Linked DNA regions of Homo sapiens. The protein of the gene in region 1 purifies or fractionates together with the protein of each later gene. This does not show direct contact. Each region holds a gene or a part of one and is shown on either strand. Other genes may lie near its edges.

Region 1 (3,978 bases):
TCAACCATTGTGGAAGTCAGTGTGGCGATTCCTCAGGGATCTAGAACTAGAAATACCATTTGACCCAGCCATCCCATTACTGGGTATATACCCAAATGAGTATAAATCATGCTGCTATAAAGACACATGCACACGTATGTTTATTGCGGCACTATTCACAATAGCAAAGACTTGGAACCAACCCAAATGTCCAACAATGATAGACTGGATTAAGAAAATGTGGCACATATACACCATGGAATACTATGCAGCCATAAAAAATGATGAGTTCATATCCTTTGTAGGGACATGGATGAAATTGGAAACCATCATTCTCAGTAAACTATCGCAAGAACAAAAAACCAAACACCGCATATTCTCACTCATAGATGGGAATTGAACAATGAGATCACATGGACACAGGAAGGGGAATATCACACTCTGGGGACTGTGGTGGGGTTGGGGGAGGGGGGAGGGATAGTATTGGGAGATATACCTAATGCTAGATGACACATTAGTGGGTGCAGCGCACCAGCATGGCACATGTATACATATGTAACTAACCTGCACAATGTGCACATGTACCCTAAAACTTAGAGTATAATAAAAAAAATAAAATAAAATAAAATAAAAATAAATGAAAAAAAAAAAAACAAAAAACAAAAAAAGAAAAAAAAAAAAAAAAGACCCAAACAGGCCAATAACTATTAGTTATTATCTCTACTGAAAAAGTGGGACTTCCTGTTATGAATAAGGGAACTAACTGAATTCCCTGCTACCTAATTACCTTCTGTAGCTATACTTACTGACAAAAACACCATTAATTTTTTTAGATACCAATTTTTTTTAATACTATGAATCTTAAGGGAAAATGGCTTCACCTCAAAAATACTCTGTTACTTGCTTGGAAGATAGACGACTTTAAGCTGATGCTGATAAACTTGTGGCTTCCAAAGTTTTCCTTACTAATTCTAAACCCAAAAGGTGCCTGGCAGTCTCTGCTATGTCTGTTTCAAGTAACCCTAGCTCTATATCAGGAGACATTTTCCTTATAAACAGAAACATGGTAAATCTTAAGTTCCCTGCAATTGAAATGCTTGGCTGTGAATTTGATTTCATAATCAGAGCGGACTCTATAGTCTTTTCATTCAATATTCCTGCAATTAGATAACCAATCGCAGCCTAGAAACAACCTCCAAGGAGACCCAGTGACATTGCTCCCATAGTTGATGCAACAATCACCATGATGACCCAAGCTTTAATCACTCTGATGAACACTGCTCTCCTGCCTAGAGATACCACTGAGTCCAGAAGCAAGACCTGTGAGAGTGCACAGTGCCACTTCGCCCCATGGCTGAAGATGGTTTGCCCAAAATTTATTCTCATCCTCCAACAGAAAGCAGTAAAACACCAACTGCAGCAACCATTTTCTTTGGGGCTGACAATGCTATTCCCAAATCAGAAACAACTATTACTTCAGAAGGAGACCACGTCACTTCAGTAAATGAATATATGCTAGAAAGCGATTTTTCAACAACTACAGACAACAAACTGACAGCTAAAAAGGAAAAACTCAAATCAGAAGATGATATGGGGACCGACTTTATTAAGTCAACAACTCACCTACAGAAAGAAATTACCTCTCTGACTGGCACTACAAACTCCATAACAAGAGACTCTATTACCGAACATTTCATGCCAGTGAAAATTGGGAATATTTCATCACCAGTTACTACTGTTTCTTTAATAGATTTTTCCACTGACATAGCAAAAGAAGATATCCTCTTAGCTACCATTGACACAGGAGATGCAGAGATCTCAATAACCTCTGAAGTCTCTGGCACACTAAAGGACAGCAGTGCTGGTGTTGCTGACGCTCCTGCCTTTCCACGTAAAAAGGATGAAGCTGATATGAGCAATTATAATTCCTCCATCAAATCCAATGTCCCTGCTGATGAGGCTGTCCAGGTCACTGATTCCACTATTCCTGAGGCTGAAATCCCTCCTGCTCCTGAAGAAAGCTTCACTACTATTCCAGACATAACTGCCCTTGAAGAAGAGAAAATAACCGAAATTGACCTAAGTGTTTTAGAAGATGACACCAGTGCTGTGGCTACATTAACTGACTCTGATGAGAAGTTTATCACTGTGTTTGAACTCACTACCTCTGCTGAAAAAGACAAAGATAAACGGGAAGATACTCTGCTAACTGATGAAGAAACTACCGAGGGAGCCAGTATTTGGATGGAGAGAGATACTGCAAATGAAGCAGAGACCCATTCTGTTTTGCTTACTGCTGTTGAATCCAGATATGACTTCGTTGTCCCTGCATCAATAGCTACAAACCTAGTGGAAGAATCATCTACAGAAGAAGATTTGTCTGAAACTGATAATACAGAGACTGTACCTAAGATCACTGAGCCATTTTCTGGAACTACCTCTGTATTAGATACCCCAGACTATAAGGAAGACACCTCCACAACTGAAACGGATATCTTTGAACTACTGAAAGAAGAACCCGATGAGTTCATGATTTAAAAGCAACAAAAGGGATACCATGTAGAATTGTGCAATAGTCTAGCCAGCTAGCCTTAACATCTAAGAAATTTTTCCAACAAGCAAAAACCTTTAGAAATGAAAGAATGTGGGCATTTAAGGCAAGTATTCGACTCAATAAATGCAGATGCTTAGGACTACAGGTCATGTAACAGATTTACGGAAACTTAGAAAAAAAAACCGCAGTGTAAGGGTCCCCCTAGTATCACAAAGTTTCAATATTCTAACAATTACTTAATGTAAAATTTTTCGTCCTAGCCTTCAGGGAGTATGAAGACAGAGCAATGTAGGGGCTCATTTCTACAACATTTAATGATGCATATCATTTAGTTAACAGTCAATATTATACTTAAGTGAGAATTAAGGATATGAAGAGAAGCAAATTAACCTCTCCAAAACATTACCATAGCCTAAAAAGTTCTCCCAAAATGCTTGTTCTAAGCAATTTTTTCATTAGTATTTCATCAGTGATTCTCTTCTATTTAAAAAATTTTTAATCCTCATATAAGAATTAAGACAATTCAGTAATTGTTTAGCACCCACATGTAAGATACATAAGATTTATGATAGGGTTCTTGGCACATGTTAGATACAAACTAAAGCAAAATGATATTTTACAAATATGCATATTTGTCAGAAAAATGTTCTGTAAACATATACATCAATTTAATTTTCTTTCTGTTAAAATGTGTTTTCTGAATTTTTGTCCATGTTTTCCAGGTCTTAAACACTGAATATCACACTCTTCTTATGACTCTTGTTAGCGATTCAAGGACATAAATCTTCATTCTTTTCTGGCACAGACTACTTAAATGGGTCTGTTTTCACTTTGCTCATTTTTCTTCAATAAATCTTTTTGGCAAGCAACTGATTTACTGTGTGTAGGTGTGTTTGATATTCTACTACAGACTTCTCAAATTAGGAGAAATAAAGAGAAATGAAAATTCATTGTTTGTTTAAAGAATAATATAGCTCTAATCCCCAGAAGTAAAATTATTCTATAGAGATTCATAATTGTATTACACTAAAAAAAGAAATAAGAACAATGCCAAAACACCAAGTGAATGAAAGATATTATGTACGGGGGGTTTGTATAGGGATTTGCACCATTAGATAAACTATAGACTAGAATAATCACAACAGTGTGTTAAAACCCAGAAACAAATTACGAAACAAAAATTTGTTATACAGTGAAGTGGACTTCAAAAACATGGGATATAATAGTTAATCTTACTTGAACAATCAGTATTTGGGAAAAAAATATGTTGGAATAATAAACAAATTTTTAAATTCTTTTTAAGACCATACTTTAAAATAAATTCTACATGGATTAAATACTTTAATGTAAAAACTAAAACCATACAAAAACTTAGGAGGAAATGTACCTGTATATCTATCCAAATGGACCTGAGAAATGTAAGCATATATGAAAAGGTGATAAGA
Region 2 (3,655 bases), on another chromosome or scaffold:
TATCCCGCTCTTCCCTGGCGCTGGTGGCACCTGTGCTGTGTGCCGTGTTATCCCACTCTTCCCTGGCGCTGGCGGCACCTGTGCTGTGTGCCATGTTATCCCACTCTTCCCTGACACTGGCGGCACCTGTGCTATGTGCCGTGTTATCCTCTCTTCCCTGGCGCTGGCGGCACCTGTGCTGTGTGCCGTGTTATCCCACTCTTCTCTGGCGCTGGCGGCACCTGTGCTGTGTGCCGTGTTATCCTCTTTTCCCTGGCACTGGCGGCACCTGTGCTGTGTGCCGTGTTACCCCGCTCTTCCCTGGCGCTGGTGGCACCTGTGCTATGTGCCGTGTTATCCTCTCTTCCCTGGCGCTGGTGGCACCTGTGCTATGTGCCGTGTTATCCTCTCTTCCCTGGCGCTGGTGGCACCTGTGCTGTGTGCTGTGTTATCCTCTCTTCCCTGGCGCTGGTGGCACCTGTGCTATGTGCCGTGTTATCCTCTCTTCCCTGGCACTGGCGGCACGCACGCTGTGTGCTGGGGTATTCACCTCTTCCCTGTGGGGAATAAGGCTTGAGACTTGCTTCCTTCCTGCCCTTAAGGGATGTAATAGCTTTGTCCTCACTGTGCCCCTAAACTGATTTGGTTTTCAGTTACATATTCAGCCTCACATGGATTAAATGCTTAGATAATTCATTAACTATGGAGTAGTTACTGATTGGCTAATGTCATCTGGAAATACATGACTGAAAGCACTTTGTCAAAACCCTGTGCACATTGCAACATGCATGGCTCCGCGGCCCTGCGTGTATGGGAGCAGCAGGTGGGTCTGCTGCTTAGAGGACGGCTGTGCTCTTCCGCCGTTGAGGTGACTCTGGTGATGTGTGCATGTCTTGCCAGTTCTGCGTTCGTTTCTCTTGTCTGTATGCATAGCTTCCTGTTTCTCGTTGGTTTGTGTATGTGTTGGGTAAGGCTTTGCTTCCTGGATAATGAGTGGTTGAAGCCATAATAAAATGTCTAGGGCGTGGGCGGGCACTGCAGGTGAGTCTGGGCAGCAGTGGTGGTGGCTGTGCTGTCCGTCGGCGAGTGGTCTGAGAGTGTCTTTGTGCTTCCTCCTCAGGTGTCGATTGACTGCCCGTGGTCCATCTACTCCACAGTCATCGCACTGACCTTCAGCGTACCCTTCAGGACCACACACAGCCTCCTGTCCTCAGGAACACGGTAACGGAGGCGTAGCGTGCGGGCCCTGGCTTCTTTCCCCAGACTCTTCTAAGTGGAGGTTCCTAATGTTCAAAACTGGCCTTCGTGGTGACCAAGGATGTCTTCTTATGTGACCACAAGGCCATTGTTTGTGTCTTAAAATCCACAATTCCCTGGTGTCCTGTGACATCCAGTTCATATTCAGGTTTTCCCAACTGTCTGAAAATGACCTTTTATGGTTGCTTTGTGTGACTTGGGGTCCAAAATCTCCATCAGACCACTAGATCTCTGTTCATCCTTTCTTCCCTGTTTTCAAGCCATCGACTTGTTCACTTGCAGGCCAGGTTTCCTCTGGACGCCCGCCTTTCTGGATCTGGCTGGATTTGTTAACTAGTTCTCCTGTCCCTGTATTTCTTGTCAATTGCCTGCAACCTCTAGAACAGGAGCTTTTAAGCTCAGCATTAGTGACATTTTGGGCTAGATAACTCTGTTGTAGGGGCTTTCCTGTGTGCTGTAGGGTGTTGAGCAGCACCCCAGGCTCTCCCATGAGATGCCAGTAGCACTCCCCACCTGCAGGTGTGGCAGCCACAGATGTCTGTAGACACTGCCCAGTGTCCTCTGGGTGGGGCGGACGTGCCCCAGTGGAAAACAGCTGCCCTAAAGGCTTGAGTAGACTCCAGTTCTGCTTTGAGGCAGGCGGGGCTGTGTGCTTCCTGTTGACTGCACCGGGAGGCCCACGGTGTCCAGGTGTCCTACCTTAGTGACGGTGCTAGCGTTGATCAATGGGCTCGGGATGCTAGCCTGGCCTCTCACCACAACTTTTTATCCATTGATGATGTGTGGATAATTTGGAAACAAAAACGTCAGACCCATGTTTAGAATGGAACATTATACTAGCAGCTTTTTTCCCCTTCAAATCACAGCAAAGGGAACTGTAGATATTAATAGTTAAAAACATCAATAATCTCTAAAAGAACCTTATTAAAAAATTATTTTTCAGCCGGGCGTGGTGGCTCATGCCTGTAATCCCAGCACTTTGGGAGGCCGAGGCAGGCGGATCACGAGGTCGGGAGTTCAAGACCAGCCTGACCAACATAGTGAAACCCCGTCTCTACTAAAAATACAAAAATTAGCCGGGCATGGTGGCGGGCGCCTGTAATCCCAGCTACTCGGGAGGCTGAGGCAGGAGAATCACTTGAACCTGGGAGGCAGAGGTTGCAGTGAGCTGAGATCGTGCCATTGCACCCCAGCCTGGGCGACAAGAGCAAGACTCTGTCTCAAAAAATAGTAACTATTATTAATATTTTCAAAGTTTTGCATGTAATGGAAATGGATATAAGCCCCGCCTATCATCTCTCAATGGAGAGTCTTCACCTGTAATGAGGAGGGCTGCTGCTGTCTCCCCGTGGCTCCCCAAAGGCCAGTGAGGGTGACCAGCCATGATCACTTAATAAGGCTGGTCAGAAACTATATTCTTTCTTCCATTGCCTCACAGAACTTGCCTCTTTAAAAACTTTTTTTATTTATTTTTATTTGTTATTTTTTTGAGATGGAGTCTCGCCCTGTCACCAGGCTGGAGTGCAGTGGCGTGATCTCAGCTCACTGCAACCTCCACCTCCCAGGTTCAAGCAATGCTCGTGCCTCAGCCTCCCGAGCAGCTGGGATTACAGACACGTGCCACCACGTCTGGCTAATTTTTATATTTTTAGTAGAGATGGGGTTTCACCATGTTGGCCAGGATGGTCTCAATCTCCTGACCTCATAATCTGCCCACCTCGGCCTCCCAAAGTGCTGGGATTACAGGCGTGAGCCACCGTGCCCGGCCAAAAAGGTTTATTTTCTGGCACTTTTCGGTGTGAAATCTGAAGGGAAACTTATGCAACAACTTAGCTTACTTTGCTTTGTTGCTTTTTTGATTCCCCAGGCAGAGAGGGTCTCCTTAACAAAGCTAAGATATATTTAATAAAGTTCTTACATATCAAAATAATACTTTTTGTTTTTCCACTTTAGGAAATATGTTCAAGTTTGTGTCCAGAATTTGTCAGAACTTGACTTTCAGCTGTCAGATAGTTATCTTGTAGATACCGGTGATAGTACCGACCTGCAACTAGTACCACTGAACACGCAGTCCCAGCAGGTAAACATTGTGTAGACCTGAGCATAAACTTCTCAACAGAGAACCAGAGTGTACGGAAATGATGTAGTATGTGTTGCGACTGAGCCTTTAGATAGAACAGCTGCACTGCTGATGAGTAAAGGCTCCTGTGCAGCTCCTCCGGCTGCCCTGAGGCTGGATCGAGGCTTGCTCCTGAGTAAGCGGGTGGCTGGATGGATGAATTCTTCTTTTTAGAAGAATTAAATCTGAAACTGGTCCCACTCTATGCGTAGACGTGTGCAGATCCAAGCTTCTGTTTGAACGCACTGTTGATTGCATGGGCACTGCTCCACTCTGCCCAGAGCCTGATGCCTGCCAGTG
Region 3 (3,655 bases), on another chromosome or scaffold:
TGGAGTTAAATGCCCATATCTCCTATCAGCTTATGAGGGACTCAAAGTCAAAAGCCTTTTCATTATTGGATCTCATCTACCAGACTGCTTTTGCACAAACTACTTGTTCACTGTGTTGATAACATGGTTTGACGGGAAGAGGGGATGTAGGTTTTGGAATCCAAAGACCTGAATATGAACATAGGCTCTGCCACTTATTAGCTGTGTGCCAGTCTGAAAACCATATAACCTTTGTGATTCTAGTTCTTTCTATTTGGCATAAAAGTCATTCAGTCTACCTTGCTGTGAAGATTAAAAGAGATGATGTAAATTCCTGGCTCTGTAGGAGCTCAAAAAATGATAGTTACAGTTCAACTGATTAAATAATGAAAAGGGTTCCTGCTGTGAGCATCTGATGGTCATGATAATGTCTGAAGTACTTTATTTTTTAATTGTTCAGCCACGAGGAGGGGTGGAAGAAGGCCCTACAGTATTGAGAAAGGCTGGTCTGCTTGAGAAACTTAAAGAACAAGGTAATTTTTAAGTTGAAAAATGATCAGCCTGATTTCCTCCCCACTCTGAAGGAAAGAGCAGGCCCCTGTGAACCTGGAGTGTGTCTGGAATATTTACATCAGAATTGCGGTACTGGTTACAACCCGAGAAACACATCCTACAAAAGCAGCAGGGCATGGGGAGAATGCTCAGGAAACATTGCTGGATGTACATCCTCACTCAGATATTTTGTCTTTCCAGCCAAACTACAGTATAAGATAAATTGTGTGTGCAAGAACGGGGGTTGGGGTGGATGGTAGGGGAGCCGGGGGAACAGCAAATGGAAGGCAAGGTGCAGCAGGAAGTATGCTACTAGCAAGAGGACCCCTATTTGTGAAATAAAATAAAATAAAACAGTAATAATGATAATAACAACAGCGCCTAGTGTGGGCGCAGTGTGTATATATACATACATATACATAAGCATGCAAATGCAAATTTACGTATATTTTTAAAGTATGGGCTCAATTTTCTGTTACCTTTACATATAAGATTCTGATAAAGTGTTGGTCAGGATGTGGAGAAACTGGAACCCTCATATATTTCTGATGGGAATGCAAATGATACAGCCACTTTGAAAGTAGGTGGGCAGTTTCTCAGGTAAACATATATTTACATTTTGACCCAGCAGTTCTACTCCTGGGTGCAGAGAAGTACAACTACAAACATTCAAGTACAAGTCTTTGTGTGGATATGTTTTCATTTCTCTTGGGTAAGAGATTTGTGCTTGAATGTTTGGGGGCAGCCATATTTATAATAACCAAAAAATGGAAACAGCAAAATGCCCATCAACTGGTAGATGGTTAAACAAAAAGTGTCACATCCATGCAACGAGATAGTATTCAACAATAAAAAGGAATGGACTGGTCGGGCACGGTGGCTGAGGCCTGTAATCCTATCACTTTGGGAAGCCAAGGTGGGTGGACTGTCTGAGCTCAGGAGTTCAAGACCAGCCTGGGCAACACAGTGAAACCCCTTCTCTAGTAAAAATACAAAAAAAAATAGCTGGGCGTGGTGGCATGAGCCTGTAGTCCCAGCTACTTGGGAGGCTGAGGCAGGAGAATGGCTTGAACCCGGAGGCAGAGGTTGCAGTGAGCTGAGATTGCGCCACTGCACCCCAACCTGGGCGACAGAGCGAGACTCCATCTCCAAAAAAAAAAAAAAAAGAAAAAGGAATGGACCGCAAACACAGGCAAAAACATGGTAGATCTCAAAAGCAGCATGATAAGACAAGAAAGACTACATGTATGATTCCACTGATACGACATTCTGGAAAGACAAAAGCATAGCAAAAGAAAGCAGATCAGCAGTTCCTGGGGTTGGGGGCAAGAATTACCTCTAAAGGGGCAGGATGGAATTTTTCAAACTCATTGACCCGCACAGTTAAAATTAGTGAGTTTTAGTGAACAAGAATTACACTTCGTAAATCTTTAAAAAAAAAAAAAAAAGACAAATACAGACACCCAGTAGAGAACAGAATGCTTGGGTAATGGACTTGTCCCTTAACTGACAAGCATAATTTGGTCACGTGTTGTATCAGGTGAAATTTCTTGGAGGCGTTACTAAATCAGATTCACACAGACATGTAACAAATACCATATTTAATGGCCAATTAGTTCAGAACACCGAACTGAATCACAGTTTTACATGACACTCTCTACTTTTCAAGCCTAATTCAAGGCCTTTTAGGGAGCACACCCAGTCCTTAGGAATTTGGGGTTACCTGCAATTTTTCCTTACTAAAAAGAATAACTAAAAAGCTTTATTTCCGAAGCTTCCAAAGTGTTAGGCTCAGTGCTAAGTACATATTCACATATTCTTATTTATTTATGATAATACCACTATGAGGCAGGTTCAATGGATACTTTGTGTGTCTGTGTGTGTGTGTATCTCCAGATGAAAATACACCAGTGCTTTCTAAATTTTCTGAGAATACATATATATACCGATATATATGTATTTAATTATTATCAAAATGAAGCATGCTTACTATAGAAAGGTAAAAAGCACATAAGCAGAGAGAGACAGAGAGACAGAGACAGAGACAGTGGCATTCCCTATTAAGCCCAAACCAGAAGATTATCACTGTTACATTTTGGTGTCTAGTTTAACTGGATGGATTCAAGAAGTGTTCACTGAGAGCCCAGTATACAGCCGCACCAGTGTGTGATACTGGTAACATGACGTCAAGCAAAAGCAGACATGGGTCTACCTTCCCAAGATTTACAGACCTTTCAGGTTTTTCCTTTGCTTATACTTGTGAATATATGCCTATTTTATACAATTGAGATCATCCTACACAGACTGATTTATAATCTACTTTTTAATTTAGTAACTCAAAACTTTTTAATTTTAGAGTGTGATGTGAAGGATTATGGGGACCTGCCCTTTGCTGACATCCCTAATGACAGTCCCTTTCAAATTGTGAAGAATCCAAGGTCTGTGGGAAAAGCAAGCGAGCAGCTGGCTGGCAAGGTGGCAGAAGTCAAGAAGAACGGAAGAATCAGCCTGGTGCTGGGCGGAGACCACAGGTCTTGTTGAATAACTGTGTCTATGGGAATCTGGCACAAAGGAAGTAACCAAGGCCATAAGAAGAGAGAAAATTTAGAAATATAGACAGAAAAGCATTGACCTATATTTTATATCAAATTTTCTGCCTTTAAAAAAATTTTATAGGTTACTTTTATTATAGAAACAGACTTCGCTCAATTTGAAGTCTTACAATATCTGTATTTTGACCTAGTACAGCAGAAAATGTATGAAATATGAATGGATTTCATCTAAATATTCATCACAAGCTTACATTTCTAAATAAGTATGTGAGGCAATTCATAGCTTATTTGTTCTTAATTGCCGATAATATATACAACTCATATAGGTCAACAATTTCAAAGCATGTGTTTTTCATTATAAAAGTAATGATCATAACATTTTTGAAAGCATCAGACACACACACACAAGAAAAAAAATGTGGTAATTGTACTTCTCTAGCAACCATTTCAACCAGAATTGAAAATCTGGCACATTTCTTTCATGGCATCTTTTTTTTCCTTGTACATGATGACTTTGTTTAACGTGTGTGTGTGTGTGTATGTGTGTGTGTGAGAGAGAGAGAGAGAGAGAC

The links.
Region 2: the proteins of CABS1 (region 1) and TRAPPC10 purify together in Homo sapiens (affinity purification with mass spectrometry; 3 studies listed by BioGRID and IntAct, with this or other methods). This does not show direct contact.
Region 3: the proteins of CABS1 (region 1) and ARG1 purify together in Homo sapiens (affinity purification with mass spectrometry; one large-scale study listed by BioGRID and IntAct). This does not show direct contact.

What each region holds. Positions count from the first base shown.
Region 1 is NC_000004.12:70,333,711-70,337,688, forward strand, and holds CABS1 (calcium-binding and spermatid-specific protein 1), read left to right. Parts: upstream 1-1,270; 5' UTR 1,271-1,329; coding exon 1,330-2,517; 3' UTR 2,518-2,636; intron 2,637-3,255; 3' UTR 3,256-3,406; downstream 3,407-3,978.
Region 2 is NC_000021.9:44,088,734-44,092,388, forward strand, and holds part of TRAPPC10 (trafficking protein particle complex subunit 10), read left to right. Parts: intron 1-1,099; coding exon 1,100-1,200; intron 1,201-3,189; coding exon 3,190-3,316; intron 3,317-3,655. UniProt on the Homo sapiens protein: Specific subunit of the TRAPP (transport protein particle) II complex, a highly conserved vesicle tethering complex that functions in late Golgi trafficking as a membrane tether.
Region 3 is NC_000006.12:131,576,224-131,579,878, forward strand, and holds part of ARG1 (arginase-1), read left to right. Parts: intron 1-439; coding exon 440-512; intron 513-2,863; coding exon of another isoform or gene 2,864-2,887; coding exon 2,888-3,062; intron 3,063-3,655. UniProt on the Homo sapiens protein: Key element of the urea cycle converting L-arginine to urea and L-ornithine, which is further metabolized into metabolites proline and polyamides that drive collagen synthesis and bioenergetic pathways critical for cell proliferation, respectively; the urea cycle takes place primarily in the liver and, to a lesser extent, in the kidneys.